Linked DNA regions of Homo sapiens: region 2 is linked to region 1. The links come from fine-mapping of genetic effects on gene expression. Tissue or cell type: whole blood. Region 1 holds a variant in brackets; the other region holds the start of a gene. All regions are shown on one strand. Distances are between the middles of the regions.

What was found. PIP is the estimated chance that this variant, and not a neighbour inherited with it, causes the effect.
Region 2: it holds the start of CAPN5, and the variant in region 1 is fine-mapped to the expression of CAPN5 in whole blood (TOPMed, PIP above 0.99).

Annotation. Positions count from the first base shown.
Region 1 is chr11:77,109,821-77,117,923 of GRCh38, reverse strand. It overlaps CAPN5 (calpain 5), which reads right to left. Exons shown (of 13, transcript NM_004055.5): 4 at 5,127-5,335; 5 at 3,490-3,682; 6 at 2,336-2,529; 7 at 1,621-1,698. Among named protein-coding and RNA genes, the nearest start is that of OMP, 11 kb to the right of the region's middle. RefSeq lists enhancers at 3,016-3,609, 3,610-4,205, 4,206-4,800. The variant T/G (reference allele first, on the strand shown) is at 3,706.
Region 2 is chr11:77,063,317-77,071,419 of GRCh38, reverse strand. It overlaps CAPN5 (calpain 5), which reads right to left and starts at 4,449. Exons shown (of 13, transcript NM_004055.5): 1 at 4,326-4,449. It overlaps LOC105369400 (a long non-coding RNA gene), which reads left to right and starts at 7,697. Exons shown (of 3, transcript XR_950341.1): 1 at 7,697-8,103. RefSeq lists a silencer at 4,244-4,933 and an enhancer at 4,790-5,290.

The sequences.
Region 1 (8,103 bases):
CCCATCTCAGAGCTAGTGAAGGAATTAGGTAATGCAATCAAAGCAGGCAGTGCAACTTTCGGCTGACAGAGCACGCACTGGCAAACGCTGGCTGTTACTATTGTGAATGGTGTTAATAACTACTGTCTGCTGCCCTGTACAGTTTATAAAGCACATCTGCATCCAGGATCTTCCATGGCTGTTGAGAGGCCTGAGTAAGTGGATGGTGGGAACCCCATGGTGAGCCTGCTGCGGTGGCCAGGGTGTTGCTATGGTCACTGCACACTGTGAACGCCTCCAGGGAGCTGGTGGGGGCAGGGGGCAGTGAATTAACCGTGAACATGTAAGAGAAAGGCCTTTGGAAGAAACTCTTTCTAAAGGCAAGGAGCTCTGCCGTGTTTTTATCTGCTGACTCCTGAGCAAGACTGGCAAAGTGGCCTGGGTGGCCTCCTGCAGCAGCTGACCTGACACCTGCAGAAGGGTTCATCATTGGGTGCCAGGACCACTGCCATCTGCCCCCAGTCTGCCTGGGGGCCCTGACAGAATCCAGCACACACAGGATGCCAATACCCCTCCAGGAAGGGACTGAGTTTCCATATCAGGTTCTGCTGAAGGGTGACACTGAGCCTAGCCCACATTCAGGACTCATGCAGGCTGGATGAATGCAGGATGAACTTTTATTACTACTGGGGTTTTTCTTTTTGTTTTTGAAACAGGGTCTTGCTCTTTAGCCCAGGATGGAGTGCAGTGGTGCGATCATGGCTCACTATAAACTCAACCTCCTGGGCTCAAGCAATCCTCCCCTCTCAGCCTCTAGAGTAGCTGAGACTACAGGGGTACATCATCACACCCAGCTAATTTTTCATTTTTGTAGAGATGGGGTCCCACTATGCTGCCCAGGCTGGTCTCAAACTCCTGGACTCAAGCAATCCTTCTACCTTGACCTCCCAAAGTGCTGGGATTATAGACATGAGCCACTGTACCCAGCCAATTACTGGGCTCTTTAAGCTGAGCTGCTGTCATCTTCCCAGCTCACCCATGTACCTGCTTAGCTCCCTTCTCAAACACAGCTGTGTTCTCTCACCTCTGAGCCACGTCCTCTTCCTTGCCCACCAAGGCCTACTCTGTACCTCAAGTCTCAGCTTAGAAGCTAGTTCCTCTAGGAGCCTCTGCTACCTAATTTCAGAAATCAGGCTGCCAGAGGGCCCCTGGAGGCAGGCTGAGGGCAGGGCTTCCTGGAGAGGGGCTGGGCATAGCCCCAGTGCCCCTGGCCACACCATACTGCTGGTGCTGGACTGTGCTTCATGCCTCCTTACCCTTGCCGGGGAGATCCTGGTGGGCCCACCTCTTAGACGGCTCCCTGACCTGCATGCCAAAGGCTCGGTCTGGGTGCCACAGCGGCTCCAGGACCCCTCAGTTCGGCAGAGGGGACTGTGGGGATGAAAGGGCCTGGTACTGCCCAACTAATTTTACAGAGGAGGAAACAGGCTCTGAGATGGTGTGACTTGTCCAAGGCCACACAGCAAATTGATGATGGGGCATGCAGGAGAGGCCTGGCTCCTGACTCCCCACCTGGTGCTCCCCGCCAGGCCCGTGGGAAGCCCCCTCAGCCCCGGACGCCCAGGGCACATACACACTCACCAGAACTCACCGTCGTCCTGCACGGTCACACCCATCTTCTCCCGCTCACTCTTGCTCACTTTCTGCCACTCCTCCGAGCTGGGGTGTCAGGGCCGGGGAGGAGAAAGGGAGCTGTCTAAGAGGCAGCCCCACCAGAATCTGTCTGGCAAAGGCGAGGAGGCACGAGGGGCAGTCTTGCACCAGGCCTCCAGCGGCACGGTGTGGCCAGGGGCACTGAGGCCATGCCCAGCCCCTCTCCAGGAAGCCCTGCCTGTCTCCTCCCACAAGGGACCGTGAGCTGCCACCATGACAGGGGCTGGGAGGTCTGAAAGTAAAGCTGCAGACTGGGGGGAAGGGGGGTGCGACCCCCAGTGAAGAGGGCTCCTTCACTTAGCACCTGGGCTCCACTCCCATCTTGGCCTTACCAGGGCCATAAGCCAAGCACAGAGGAGTCCCCCATTTGCTCAGGGCTGTGGCCTCCCTCCCTGCTCCCCTCCCGCACCCACTCACCAAGCTGGTCTCTACACCCCTGATGGCCTCCAGCCCCAGGCCTTTCTTGTGCTCAATCCATCACCCCATACAACCACTGCAAAGTAATTCTCCCTTCTTCGTTCCTAGTGTCATCCTCCCCCAGATCCTTCAAGGCCCAGCCCCAGTGCCAACTCCTCCAAGAAGCCCACCCGTCCTTGTCCAAGCCCTCATGCCCTGTGCCTGCACCCCCATCCCCAGGCCTCACGTGTCACTCCAGGGCCCGTTCCACTCCCGCTCGCCCCAGGGGTTGCGCAGGCGGATCATGTCCAACTTCTCTGACTTGAAGAAGGCCAGTAGGCCGTGGCCCAGGCGCACCTTGCGCACATCAGTGACGGCGTATGCGTGGCCCTTTACCAGGCCGCACGCCAGGCGGGCCTCCATGTCAGCTGCTGTCACTGCCTGTGGAGGGACACAGTTGCTCAGAGAGGCAGGGCCACACTGGAACCCAGACCAGGGACTCAGGTGCTGGAGGGCTAGGAGGCTGCACGGGACCTACAGGATGGGATGGGAATTGCAGTCATGGGGCAGTGCTGTGTTCACAGAGCTTTAAAACCCCCATGGGCAGCAGTCTCAGTAAAGGAAGGTGCCCATAGTGGGTCAGCCCAGGGGAATGCTGGGGCCCACGTGCACTGGCTCAGCTGTTGTTAAATATTCGGGAATATTTAAATTGTTAAATATTCCAGGAATTGTTAAATATTCAGGAACATTGTTTTGTTTTTTGTTTTTTTTTTGGATGGAGTTTTGCTCTTGTTGCCCAGGCTGGAGTGCAATGGCGCGATCTTGGCTCACCACAATTTCTGCCTCCCGGGTTCAAGCAATTCTCCTGCCTCAGCCTCCCGAGTAGCTGGGATTACAGGCATGTGCCACCATGCCCGGCCAGGAATATTGTTAATAGCTGGTTGTTAAATGTGGGTAGTTGGAAATCAGCCATGGTGGGAGTATTTACACCACAGTAATTAGCAAATGCTACAAACCGGGGCTTTTTACTTTGCTGGAGGCAGTTTACCAGCACAGCACAGGGTCTGCTAAAGTTGGGTTTGAACTTGGCTTTCACTGGGCCTCAGCTTTCTCATCCAAAACACGAGCAAGTAATGAAATCAGGACCACCCTCAGATGCACAGACGTTCATAACCCAAGAGGATCAGAAAAGAAGTTTTGGTTGAACAGTGCGGGAAAGGCTTTTCACAGCCTAGAGGGTCTGGGCAGGGGGTTGCACCTTCCAACTTCTCCCCTCCCCCACGAGGCTGAGGGTCTGAATACGTAGGAGCTGACCTGAGCGTGGGATGTCACAGTTGTCTCCCATCTCAGTCAGCGAGGGTGAAGGGGAGGGGTCGCCTCTGGGGACTGCCGTGTTCTCACCTTGATGGAGGCACTGATGAGGCCGCCCCGGCTGTGCACCTTTAACATGCGCTCAAAGAGCTGGTTCCTCTTAGTCTCATCGTTGGCAAAGTCACCCTCGGTCAGGTCGATGGGCTCAGAAACACCACCCGTGAAGTCCACCAGTGCGTCTGCTGTGTTGCCTCCATCCAGGGCCTGGTAACAGCCTGCCAGTCTGGGAAGCAATGTGGAAAGACT[T/G]CCCAGCTCATGCTCCCCAGCCAGGCTGCATCCTTTACCTCATAGGGGAGGTTTTTGAAACTCAGAGGGGTCAAACAACCTGTTACAGTCACGCAGCAGGCCACGGCGGAGCCAACACTGGAACCCAGTTCTTAACACTCGGGCCAACATATAAGGCTTAAATTCCCCTAAGCCTTAGTGGCTCAATCTTAAAAAATCAGCTGTCCAAAAAAAAAAAAGCAACTCTTTTCCAAAGTGCCAACAATGGTCAGGGGGAGGGGAAGGAGTTACTGTCGGATGGGTATAGACCTCCTGCTGGGAATGATGAGAAGGTTCTGGGGATAGATAGTGGTGATGGCCCATAGCACTGTGATCATAATGAATGCCACTGAATTGTATGTTTCCATATGGTTAAAATGAGAAGCATTATGTTTTGTCTATTTTACCACAATGAAACTGTGTTTTTTCAAAAAACAAAAAACAACCAAGGCCACTGGGTCGACCTGCATCCAGGTGGTGGAGACTCAGTGGCCACCAGGGGGCTGGCTTTCCTTTCTTAGGATTGAAAGTGGAACCTGCCAATGTGTTTTCTTGGGTTTTTGATGTTGGGAGTTTTTGTCTTTCCTTTTCCTCTCTCCCCCTTTCTCTTGTTTTCTATCTCTCTCTCTCCTTGCTCCTGCCCCTACACACACATTTTTTCAGCAAGATTGACAAATGGGCCTAGCAGGAGGAACCAGAGAGTGGCTCACCTAGAGCTGGCGAGGCTGGCCTCTGACCCCACTGCCCCTCCTCCCTCCTCCCTCCTGGCCTAGGCGTATCCCTGCCCTGCAACGGCCTGCGCGAGTCACTCTTCCCCAGGGTTCCCCACAGCTCAGCAAAACTTTGCTTGTGCCCATTCTATGCTGGGCTCTGTGTTGGGCACTGGGGACACAGAAGCAGAAGGCACGGAGCAGAAGGAGGGGTCAGCAAAGACAGAATGGACAGTCAGCCAGGCAGAGGCGGATGGTGGACAAGAGGGAGGCCCAGCAGGCGGGGAAGGCAGGCACGTGGCCCACCCTGCACAACCAGGCCCCAGCTCAGTTACCACTTCCCCAACCAAGGCCCCAGGCAGGGCATGGCAGCATGAACCTTCGAGAATGGTCCTAAATGTGAGTGCTGCCTCTGCCCCCAGCTACCTACAGGATGTTGCCTGGGCCTCAGTCTTCTCCCCCTAAAATGGGAGTAACCAACATTCCTCTCCTTACAGGGCCCAGGCCTCCACCCCACCCAGCACAGGCTCAGCTGACTATGCCCTCAGGCCTGGCGGTTGAGCCTGCTGCGTGCCTGCACCAGCCCCTCACTTCTCTGTGCCTAAAGCCCTGGCTAACGGAATACCACGAGGAGCCCATCCGGTGCCACCCCCGTCTGGGCCTCCCACCCACCTGCCTGCTGCTGGCACCTACTTGGCATAGGCCTTCTCCACTAGGGCGCACCAAAACTCATTGCGGGAGTTGGAGTGGCAGTAGATGAGCTGGTTGTTGACTGTGGGCAGCCGGTCATCGATGACCACGTCCACCCATTCCCCGAAGCGCCAGAAGTGGAAGTGGAAGATGCCCGCGTAGGCGTTGGGCTTTTCGGGGTCCCATTCCTGCTCCTTCCAGTCTGGGATGACCTGGGTAGGGGGAGGGGGGATAGGATGGGGGAACACAGTGAGGGGATGTCCGGCTTCCTGAGGAAATGGGGGCGTGTGCTTCCAGCGAATCGGAATGTAAAGGAATACTGGGTTCGGATTCCAACTCTGCCACAAGCCTTCGTGAGACCCGGATGAATCCTCCCCATCTCCAGGCTCAGGTTCCCATCTCCGCGAGGCTTGGAGGCTCCCTCGGCCTCCTTCCAGCTGTTGTTCTCAGAGTGTGTGAGCTTTCCTCTTTCTCATGCCTCCCTGCAACCTTCCCCGAGACTTCCGTCCACATCTACCACCAGCTCCTGCCTAGTGACCAGCGCCACCATCCACCCATCCAGCCCACCCCAAGGCTGGCAGCCCCACTGGCTGCTTTGCTTTCCCTCCCTCCATCCAGTCAGCCCAATCTGAGCGCCTCCATTCTCCTGAAATCCATCTCCTCCTCTCCATCCTACTGGCACCACCCTGGCCCAATCCCCCATCTCCTCGCCCAGGGACAACTGTAGCAGTGTCTGCAGCTACATCTACTCTCGCCCCACATAGACCAACCCAGTCCTGTCACTTCCCTAGAAAATAAGACACAAACTCTCAATGCACTCCCCCAGCCTCATTTCTCTGCCTCCCCCACAGCAGCCCCCACCCCTGCTCCCTGCTCCAGGTTCTTCCTTCTCCTCATTACTCAGTAGACTTCCATTTGTCCTTTAGTGTCCATCCTCTTTCTCCAGGAAGCCTCCCTGACTATTCAGATTAGGCCAGGACCCCTATCTCAGTCTCATGGCCCTTGGCAGCTCTCATCTGAGATACTTACCTTTACCAAGTTATAATTAAGTAACTCTGTGACTTTGAGCTCTGATGTTACACTGGGAATGTCAGTTCTCTGGGGGCAGGGCCATATAGGTCTCAGTCACTGCTATGCACCCAGCACCTAGCCCAGGGCCTGACCCAGAGAGTATGTTTAGTAAACATGCATTGACTGAATGAATGAATTCAAAGACATTGACTGGGGACACTGAGACATTGATTTTATTACTTATGACGCATCTGGGAAATGCCTGTGACTACCATGACTTATCTCCATTTAATTATCACAATAACCTCTGAGTAGATGACTATTATCCAGCCCTACTTCACAGATGACAATACTGTGGCCCAGAGAGGGCACGTAACTCGTCCAGGGTCACCCAGCTAGAAAATACACACATGCTTTGGAGGCAGACCAACCTTGGTTTGAAGCCAGGATTCAAACCCAGATCTGTCTGCCTCTGAAAAATGAGCTCCTTGGCACTGTGGACCACTCTGCAACCAGCCCCAAGCTGGACACTGACAACCAGGTGAATCACATGGTCCCTTCCCTCAAAAGGCTCCCAGTCTGGGGAGAGGAGGAGGCACCCAGGCAAAGTGCTGAGGCTACACAGGGTGCAGGCGGGGCTATACCAGAAGGGAGTGCCAGACCCTACTCAGCAGCATCCGCAGTGCTGCTACAGGCGTCCCCCAAGCAGATGAGGACAATAGCCACAATCTGGGCAGAGAAGGGAAAACCCCTCACCCTGTCAAGTCAGGGTGAATGACCCCTGGCCCTGCTGGGCACGGGACCAAGTGGAGCTGAGCCCCATCAGGACCATAAGCAGCTCTTTCTAGAAGAAAACCACTCCAGGTATGGGGGGCACCCAGGCGGAGGAACCAGAGGCACACCAGGAGGCCGGCACTCACCTGAGTGTACAGACTTCAGCCAAAAGCTGCTCCCCACTGCATGCTCATTAAGGACACTTTTGTTTGCATCAACAAACAAAACTCTTACCATCAAAAGGGATGTTGGCAAAGGGAAATGCTCCCTAATGGGACATGTGAGACCAAGAAAATGAAAATGCTAACTGCAGCGAGAGGTACTACTGCCCTAATGGAGCCCTGTTGGGTGCCAGGCACAGGGCCAGGCTGCTCACACTAGCACCCCTGAGCCTCAGGACAGGCTTTTGAGGCAATACTACCGGAAGGTGCTGGCAGAAGGCTGCCCACAGGCTCAAGCGAGGGAGGCAGGGTTCAAACCCAGGACTTCCCAACCTCACTGTCTGGAACCCAGCAAGGGCTCAACACTGGCTGTTCCTTTCCCCCACCTCCTCACCCCCACTTTTCTGTCAACTCTGTGCCCTTTCTAAGTAAAAATGCCCTGACTCCTGGCACTCTCTCCCCACTTTGCTTTCAGGACAGACAGCTGTATCAAAAACACGTCTCATGGGAGGCCAAGGCAGGTGGATCACTTGAGGCCAGTTCGATACCAGCCTGGCCAACATGGTAAAACTCTGTCTCTACTAAAAAAGAATACAAAAATTAGCTGGGCGTGGTGGTGCGTGCCTGTAATCCTAGCCATTCAGGAGGCTGACTCATGAGAATCGCTTGAACCTGGGAGGCGGAGGTTGCAGTGAGCTGGGCAACAGAGCAAGACTCTGTCTCAAAAAAAAAAAAAAGAGCGGTTCCATACAAGGTGAGGGTTACCATTCCCACTGCACAAATGGGAAGACTGAGGTCCAGAAAGAAACAAGATCTGCCCAAGCGCACAGAGTGACAGGGAGTCCTAAGCTGAGAACACAGGCCTGGCCCATCACCTTCACCCCCTCCTTCTGCTCCTGCCCTGTTCTGAATGCTCTGGACTCCATGGCTGGGAGGAAGGGCAGCCCTCACAGGCTGCTAGGACCTCGGGAGGATCATTAGTCAAACTCGAGGCTTGGCTCTGAGCCCTCTGTGGCTCAAGAAGCTGCTAATGA
Region 2 (8,103 bases), 47 kb after region 1:
TCTGAAATGAGCTGCACTCCACCCTGAAAGGCCCAGCACGCTGTCAAAGGCAGGCAGGGTCCAGACATTGGGGACCACCCATGCGGCTGTGCCAGGGATGCCCTTCTTCCAAACATCCCTGAACTCTGGCTACCAGGGGCTCAGGCTGCACACTGGGGCCAGGGCTACAGCAGCGCCCAGCCTCCAAGGCTCCCAGGCTGGAGGGGAGACAGACATTGTGAGTGACCTCCTGGGGGAAACAGGACTGTGACTGGGGAAGCCAGCCTCGGTGGGCACTGGGGTGGGGGCGGGAGCTGGGAATGGTGCCTGCAGTGACGCTGCTGTCAGCTCCTGGGGTGGGCTGAATGACGGCCCCAAAGATACTCCCAACCGAATCCCTAGAACCTGTGAATGACACCTTGTATGGCACAAGGGACTCTGAAGATGCGATTAAGGATTTTGAGACAGGGAGACGATCTTGGCTTATCTGGGTGGGCCCTGAATGTAATCACAAGTGTCCCTATAAGAGGGAGGTGGAGAGGATCTGCCTGCAGAGGAGGAAAGAGCAATGAGACAGAAGCAGAGACTGGGGCAATGTTGCCATAAGGAATGCCAGCAGCCACCGGAGGCTGGAAGAGACAGGGAATGGACTCTCCCCTAGATCCCACAGAAGAAGCCAGCCTGGATTTTAGCTCCATTAGACTCATGGGGGACTTCTCATCTCCGGAACTGTAAGAGCATAAATCTGTGTTGTTTTCAGCCACCAAGTGTGGCAATTTGTCGCAACAGTGATAGGAAAGGAATATGCTCTTGAACGATGCTGTTCCTGAAGAATAGCTAATGGGAGCCGGGGTGTCATGGGGTCCCACCCGCCTCTCCTGCCCGGAGAAGCCCATGAGGGAAATGAAGTTCTTACACCTTGAGTTGCTCCGCTGTACAACAGTCACCCCACATCAGTTTCTTAGTTCCTGCTATGAGTAACAAATCACTTGGGTCCCACCTCACTCCAACTGGCAGAAGTTACACAGCAGCAGGGGGCACTGGCTGAGCAGGGGCTGGCTGGGCAGGGCAGGTGGGTCAAGCCAATGGGCTCCCAGCCTTCTGCCCACCATCCCCGGGGGCACATCCTGACAGTGAAGGGCAGCTGGGGACCAGTGGATGGGCTTTGATGTGCTCTGGTCACCAGCCCCTTCTCTTGCATGCCCACTGTGGGAGAAAACCACAGCACACACCCACAGGCCACCGCAGCCTCAGCTGTTGCCCACCCAGACCCCTATCCCTGGGAAAACTTGGGTCCCTGGAAGCACACGTGCAAACAACCAGAATGGGGAGCAGTAACCCAGGCCCTTGCGGGTAAGCACACATCATCCACAGCTTCCCCATCCAAGCCTGAGGCTGGCTTCCTAAGACATCCAGATTCCAACCGCAAAGGGACCTGGCCCCTTTGCCTTGGGTGAGCAGGGAAAGGCAAAGCCTGAGTTCATAGGCAAGTGAGCAGCTCTGCCTGCACTAAAGCAAGGCAATCCCAGGGTGTCTCCACCAGCCTGGAGGAGGGCTCAGAGGTGGGCAGCAGGAAGGCCAAGCCTCAGGACCACGGTGAGCCCAGGAAAGTTTTGAGCGGGGACCAGGGATGGAGAGGCAGAAGAGTTCTCTGAGGGCACTTGAGAGGTGCCTGGGAGGGGCTCTGAAGGCACTCAAAACACTTGAATAGATGGGGACAGAGACAGAACGGGTGAAAAGCCCAGCTGCAGAGAGACTGCTGCCAGCTGCCCAGGAGGCTGCTGGGGAGGGGTGGGGGGTGTTGCAGACCCTGCTCTTTGCAGCTGGGGGAGCCCAGGGCCCACTGCTGGGCTTTCTGTTCAACCTTTACATGCTGTACTCTAGGGTGCTCCCGGCTGCTCAGCCCTTGCCTCTCCTCAAGGGCTAGAAGCTTTTGGGGGAAGCCAGGGGACTTGGTCAGGCAGATACAGATCACTCCCGTAAGTCCCCTTCACCCACTAAAGCCAAGAGAGGCTTCCGTTTCAATAGGAGAGGACTGTTTCCTTCCACCCTTCTTCTCCCAAAGTCAGCCCCTCATCCCCAGGGAGGGAACTAAGTGATGCTGATTGCCAGCTGCTATTAGTAACAATGGCTACCAGACACCATGTACTTAGAAAGATGCGTTCAGTGACATGATCTAAGTTCATCTTCATCATCCCCCGAGTCCCTGTGAATAGGCAGCATTTATCCCCATTCCGCACATGAGAAAACTGAGACAGAAAAGGGAAGTTCTCCGCCTCAAGGTCATAGGCAAGTAGGAAGGTACAGAGATGGTCTCAGCCAAGAGAAAGAACAGACACATGATTTAGGCCCTGCAGGTAGGAGAGGGTGCCCACTGAGGGCGCAGGAGGCCTCCTGTTTGGGGACCAGGACTCCAGGGCTGATCTGACAGCCTGCCAGGAAAGCAGGCGCAGAAGCAGACAGAGACAGTGCTGGCCTGGGAGCAGTGTCCCAGATGTCACCCACAAAAACCCACAGGCATCTCACAACCACCCTGTCCAACAGTCAACTTACTCCCAACCTGCTCCACCCCCAATGGTGGTCCCCATCTCACAGAGGCAGCCCCACCTACCTTCCCCCAGCACTGGGACCCTGTGTAGCCCCTTAGCCCCTGGGCACCTCCTGCCCCCAGCACCCCTGCTCTGGGAAACTTTATCAGGGTCCCTCCTCCCCTGCCAAGCCTAGCCCTGGGTGGGGAGCAGAGGAGAGCAGAAGGGAGGGCCCTCTCCCTGCTTTGGCCTCCTCCTTATAGCCCTCAGTGGAAGCCCACCCACTACTGCAGCCAAAGGTGGCCCTTCTTGGACACACATCTGACCTATCTAATCCGCAATCCACCCCACCAGCATTCATTTTCACACTGCCAGGCCTTTACTCATGCTGTTCCTTGGGGCTGCAATGACCTGCCTTTTCTTTTCTGCTTGGTGGATTTCAAGACCCAGCCCCAACGAATCTGCAAGTGAACTCATCCCCAGCTCCCGGGCACCCATCAGTCCCTGTCTTGTGCTCCCAGCACTGGGTACAACTCTGGACAGGGCCTTATCTGTGGACCCACTGCCTGTCTTGTCAGAAGAGAGGCTCCTCAGGGCAAAGACCCCGCCTGAGCACCTCTGTGTGCTGGCAACTAGCCTGACCTGGCCTGCAGCAGCAGCTGGGCCCACCATACCCTGCCCAGGAGGCAAAGGCAGCCACACCACCCCACCCCCAGACCCTGGGGACAGGAGCAAGGACCAGCCCGAGGACCCTGGGAGGTGTCAATCCTTGCAAAACACAGTGGTTCCCCCAGCAGGCCTCAGACTCATTGAGTTGGCTGAGCCTCACCCGTAAGCCCCTCTCTTCCAAGAAGTCTGCCCAGATCTCTCTTTCCCCTGAGTCCTGGGATAGTCGCCCTCAGTACTTTTCTCTCTAAACCACAGGTGTAGGGAGAAGATTCTGGGATGAGAGCCAGGCGGACCCGGGTTCAAATTCTGGCTCAGCAATCCTGAGAGGGCAGCTGACTTCGCTTCTCTGTGCCCCACTCTTCTGATCTGTATGGAACTTGGGGGTGAATCCCACCACATGAAATGACTGGGAGAGAGAACGTCGCACCTGTTAATGATCTTTTGTCCTATTTCGCCTCTGGTCCCCTAGGCCAGTCTTCCGAGACCCCCAACGCAAAGGAACAGAGGTGGGAACTCTGAGGTCTGAGAAACAAAGATCCATTCCCTCCCAGACCACTCCCCCACACTCCCGCAACACACACACACACACACACACACACACACACACACACGTGCGCCCGCCCTGCAGTCAAGGAGAAAAGCCCCCTTTCAACCTGGGGAGTAGTGCCAAGAAGCGGATAGGCTGGGGCAGTAGGAGCCTCGGCCCTGCCCCTTCCCCAGGCCTGGGTGGTGGAGCACCCAGAAGGGGTTGGTGGATTGCAGGGATGAAAGGGGGGTTAAGCAGGGAAGAGAAGGGGGGAACTGTAAGGAAGATGAGAGGAAGTGACAGTCTAGCCCCGGGTGTTAGGCGCTTCCAGCGCGTCCGCACTAGGAAAACGACTCGGAGACACCCAGAGGGAGGTGAAAAAAAGACTCCTCGCCGGGGGTGGGGGTGGGGACGAGCCGAGGGGGCCCAGGCGGATGCTCCAGGACCCCGCCCCCCAGCCAGCGCTCACTTCCTTTCCCCCCGGGCCCGCGGGAGGTGCAGCCCCCTCCACTGATTCGTGGTCCCGGAGCAATCACTGGCCCGCGCTGCACCCGCACACACCCCCCCGAAACACACACACACACACACACAGAAGCACACGCCTCCCTCCGCCCGCCTCCTACCGGCCGAGCCGCCGCGGGTCCAGCCGGGCTCCCGGGATGCAGGGCACGGCGCGGGCGCTGGAGCGGAGGCTGCAGCCGCCCGGCGCAGCAGCCTCGGGCTCTGGCCGGAGATCCAGCTGGGACTGGCCTGCGGCGGGGGCTGGCGCTCGCATTCCCCGGGTTCGGCCAGCTGGGCCCGGCTCCGCCCCGCCCCGCCCGCGGCCTCCGCCCATTTGCCCGTTGCGAGCCGGAGGCGTGGTCTCCCGTGGGGCGGGGTGGGCGGCCCGGTGGCCGGGTGCGCCCATGCGCACTGGTGCGGTGGGCGGCCGCTCAGAGGAGCGGTCTCATTCCAGCCCCTGTGTTGAACGCGGACTTGGGGCCCCTAGCGGCACCCACCGCCTCTACCGGCTCGGTCGGGCCCTCGTTCTCTCTCCTTCCCAGCCTATCTGTCTGCGGTTGGTGCGCATCCCCATGGGCAGCCTCCCAAGGGCTGGCTGCACCGTGAGGGATCGGGCCGGGGCTGGGGTTCAGCCCCCACAGGGCGGGCCGGGGCCGCGGCTGACTTGGGGCCGGCGTGTAGTACCGAGGACCCGCAAGGGCCAGGGTGCCTGCCAGAACCAGGACTTGGTGGGCGGCGCCCCTCCCTTTCCGGGCTCCACCTTCACATCCATCCCAAGTGTTCGGATGGAGAAGTGGGAGCCCAGGCCCCTGTGAGCAGCAGAGGGCCTCTGTCAGATGGGAAAACTGACCCCGGCCCGTGTTGAGGACTTAATCCCGTGCTGCCATGGGCTCCCGGGCTCGGGCTCATGTTTGACTCTCTGTCCGTGACTGGCTACCGGAATGCCCTGGGATGGCACGGAGCCTGCATTTCCTGATCTGTAAAACGGGGACTATAATCTCTACCCACCCCAGGCCGCTTGGGGAATCCGATAGAGAAGGTTTAGGAGTGACTAGTTCTTGCCTACAGTAGGAGCTCAGGGGTGCCACCACCCCCCGCCCTGAGGCAGCAGGACAGACGCCCATCTGATCTGATGAGCCCATCGGCCCACTCGCTGGTGGAGCGTCTCAGGCCCGTTCATTCTCCGCCTCCAATTTGTTTCGAAGTCTCAGTTAATGATTTCGTCAACCTCTTGTGTTACCGAAACAAACTTGGGTCCGCCCACCCAGTGCAGCAAAGCCAAACACTGACACCAGGATTTGCAGCGGCAGAAAGGGAGGCATTTATTGCAGGGTGCCAAGCAAGGAGAATAGGTCGGCTAATGCTTAAGACCCGTACTCCCCAATGGTTTACATGTAAGGCTTTTTAAAGGTGGGGAGACAGAGGTTATAGGCAAAGTCATAAATAAATACTCTGGAGCTATACATTGGCTTGGCCCAAAAAGGTGAGACATTTTGAGGCAGGGTCATAGGTGGATTCAGAGATTCTGTGATTTGCAATTGGCTTAGGAAGCAAGACTGTCTAAAAACCTGGGGTCCACAGATAGGAGAGTTAAGCATTGGCTTATGGGTGTGACTCTTTACAGAACCCTTGGGAAGAAATTTAAAGAACAGCCCTCAGTTTCCCCTTATCTGAGGCCTAAGTGACAGCTGTGAAAAACAATTCAGGGACATAGGTCAAGATGTTATCTTTAGTTTCTATAGGGAACCAGACATCTTGTGGCTCTAACTTATTTGGGTGGCCCTTGTTTGAAGCTTCAATTACCTTCTTGCTTGTCAAGGTGCTCATTTACTTCTCAAAGCTAGCTAGCTGCCTGAAATTCCCCCTGAAAAGACTCATGATTTTCCTTTATTTCCACTAAGAGGAGTCTCTGCCTCACCTCACTCTCAGTCACCTGGACTTCTCTAGCTTCTCCCCAACCTCCCTGCCTCTGTCCCAGGCCACCCAGATGCTTCTCCCTTAAGAGTAGCCCCAGCCCCCTCAGGAGCCTCCTATCCAACCAAAGAAGACTTTCACATATGCAGCTGAGACCCGCCACCCATAGAAGAGTGTTCTAAGACTGCACCCCATCTGACTCCCCCATCTCCCCTAACCTTATTCCATGCCCTGTACTGGGAGCAGCAGCTTCACCAGCCCTTCAAAAGTCACTTCAGGGGCTCTACTCTCCCCACCTGAAACCATGCCCGTGCTGATCTGTGGCCGTCTGAAGGACTCTTCCTTCCTCCCTGTGCTGCAGCATCCCAAAGCTCCCTTGCTCAGCATCCACCCCTCACCTATGGCCCTTCTCAGGCTGCGTCTCTCAGAGTTGCTGGTGGGGCCAAGGTTTCCCCTGCAAGGCCAAAGTTCCTGGAGGGCAGAGGCCAAGGGTCATTGTCAGGAAGACAGCAGCACTTGGTAGAGCCAAGTAGATCTGGGCTCCAGTCCTCACTCTGCCAGTTACTGGCTGTGTGATCTGGGCAGGTCCTCTATCCTTTTCCCTGTCTGTAAAATGGGCTTCTAGCTGGAGTGTGTGATGACCAGGTACAGGCAAGTCACGGGGATCGATAAAGGCCCGGTTGTGTAGGATACTGGGCAGCATTGTCTCTGGGCTGGGCAACTCCCATGTGTTCCAAGGTGGGGCTGGGGTTGTGTCTGAGAAGGCATGTTTGCCTCAGCCCACAAAACAGTGGGGTTCAGAGGATGCTCAGACCCCCTTCTGTATCTCAAAGCATTGGAGCCACAAGAGGGTATTGTGCAGTAGTTGCAAGCATGGGCTCTGCCTGGGCTCATATTAGCTGAGTGACCTCAGACAAGTGACCCAACCTCACTGTGCCAGTATCCTCTCCTATAAAGCCAGCATAGCAACAGTCGCACCATGGAGTTGTTGTGGGATTAAATGGGCCGGGACATACGGAGCCCTCATGGTTGCCCTTTGCTTGGAGTAAGAGCTCAGCATGTGCTAGCTGGTGTTATTGTCATCTGGCCCAGCCCCTCATTTTGTGAAGACATTGAGTCCCAGAAGCAGAGACATGCACTCATGGCCAGTGAGAAGCCCAGCCACCCTAGCAGGTTAGCACTGGAAGGGCCCAGTCCTTTAATCATCTCCAGCAGCTCCACCTTCTCCGACAGGTGAGGAAAGAGGCCTAGCGAGAGTGACCTGCCCAGGACACCCACCCTGGTGGCCGGGTGGAGAGAGCATTGGCCCTGCTCTTGGGGGAGAGAGAGGTCCCCAAGATAGGCCAGGAAGAGCCAGATCTGCCCAACAAGGTTGGGGAAAAGGTGGGACTTTGATGATGCTCTGGCCCGGGATCCTGCTGGTCAGTTTTTGTAAACTGAGTCATCTAATGGTACCATCGCAGGGCCTGATGTGGAGGTGCACTTCCCATTTCTCACAACCGCCCTCTGCAGCAGCTCTGATTAGTCCATTTTCCAGATGACAGAACCAAGCCTCAGGGAGATGCCCCAGGTCACACAATTAGTAACTGGAATCCAAACCTACCCTGTCTGACTCCACTCTTGTGGCCTTTCCCTCCCCTCTTCCTATCTCCTCCAGGAAAAGGTCACCTCTGCAGGCTCCTTGACTGGCTGTCCCACCTCTGCTTGCATGCCACTGTAACTGGGAACTCATTTCCTCATAGCACAACCCTTTCTCCTCTACCTGGGAGAGCTTTTGTCACCCAGAGCTGATCCACCCCTCTCTTCCTGGTTCTGCCAGACTCTATACCCTCTATCTTACCAGAGCCTAGAGACAGAATCTTCTCTGCCCAGGTTAGAAAACCCCTATCTTCACTGCTCCTGTGTGTAATAGGATTTCCCAGGTGAAACTTATGATAATCATGTTTTTTTTAACCCCAACAGACCTAATTGTCTAGCTATTGTGTG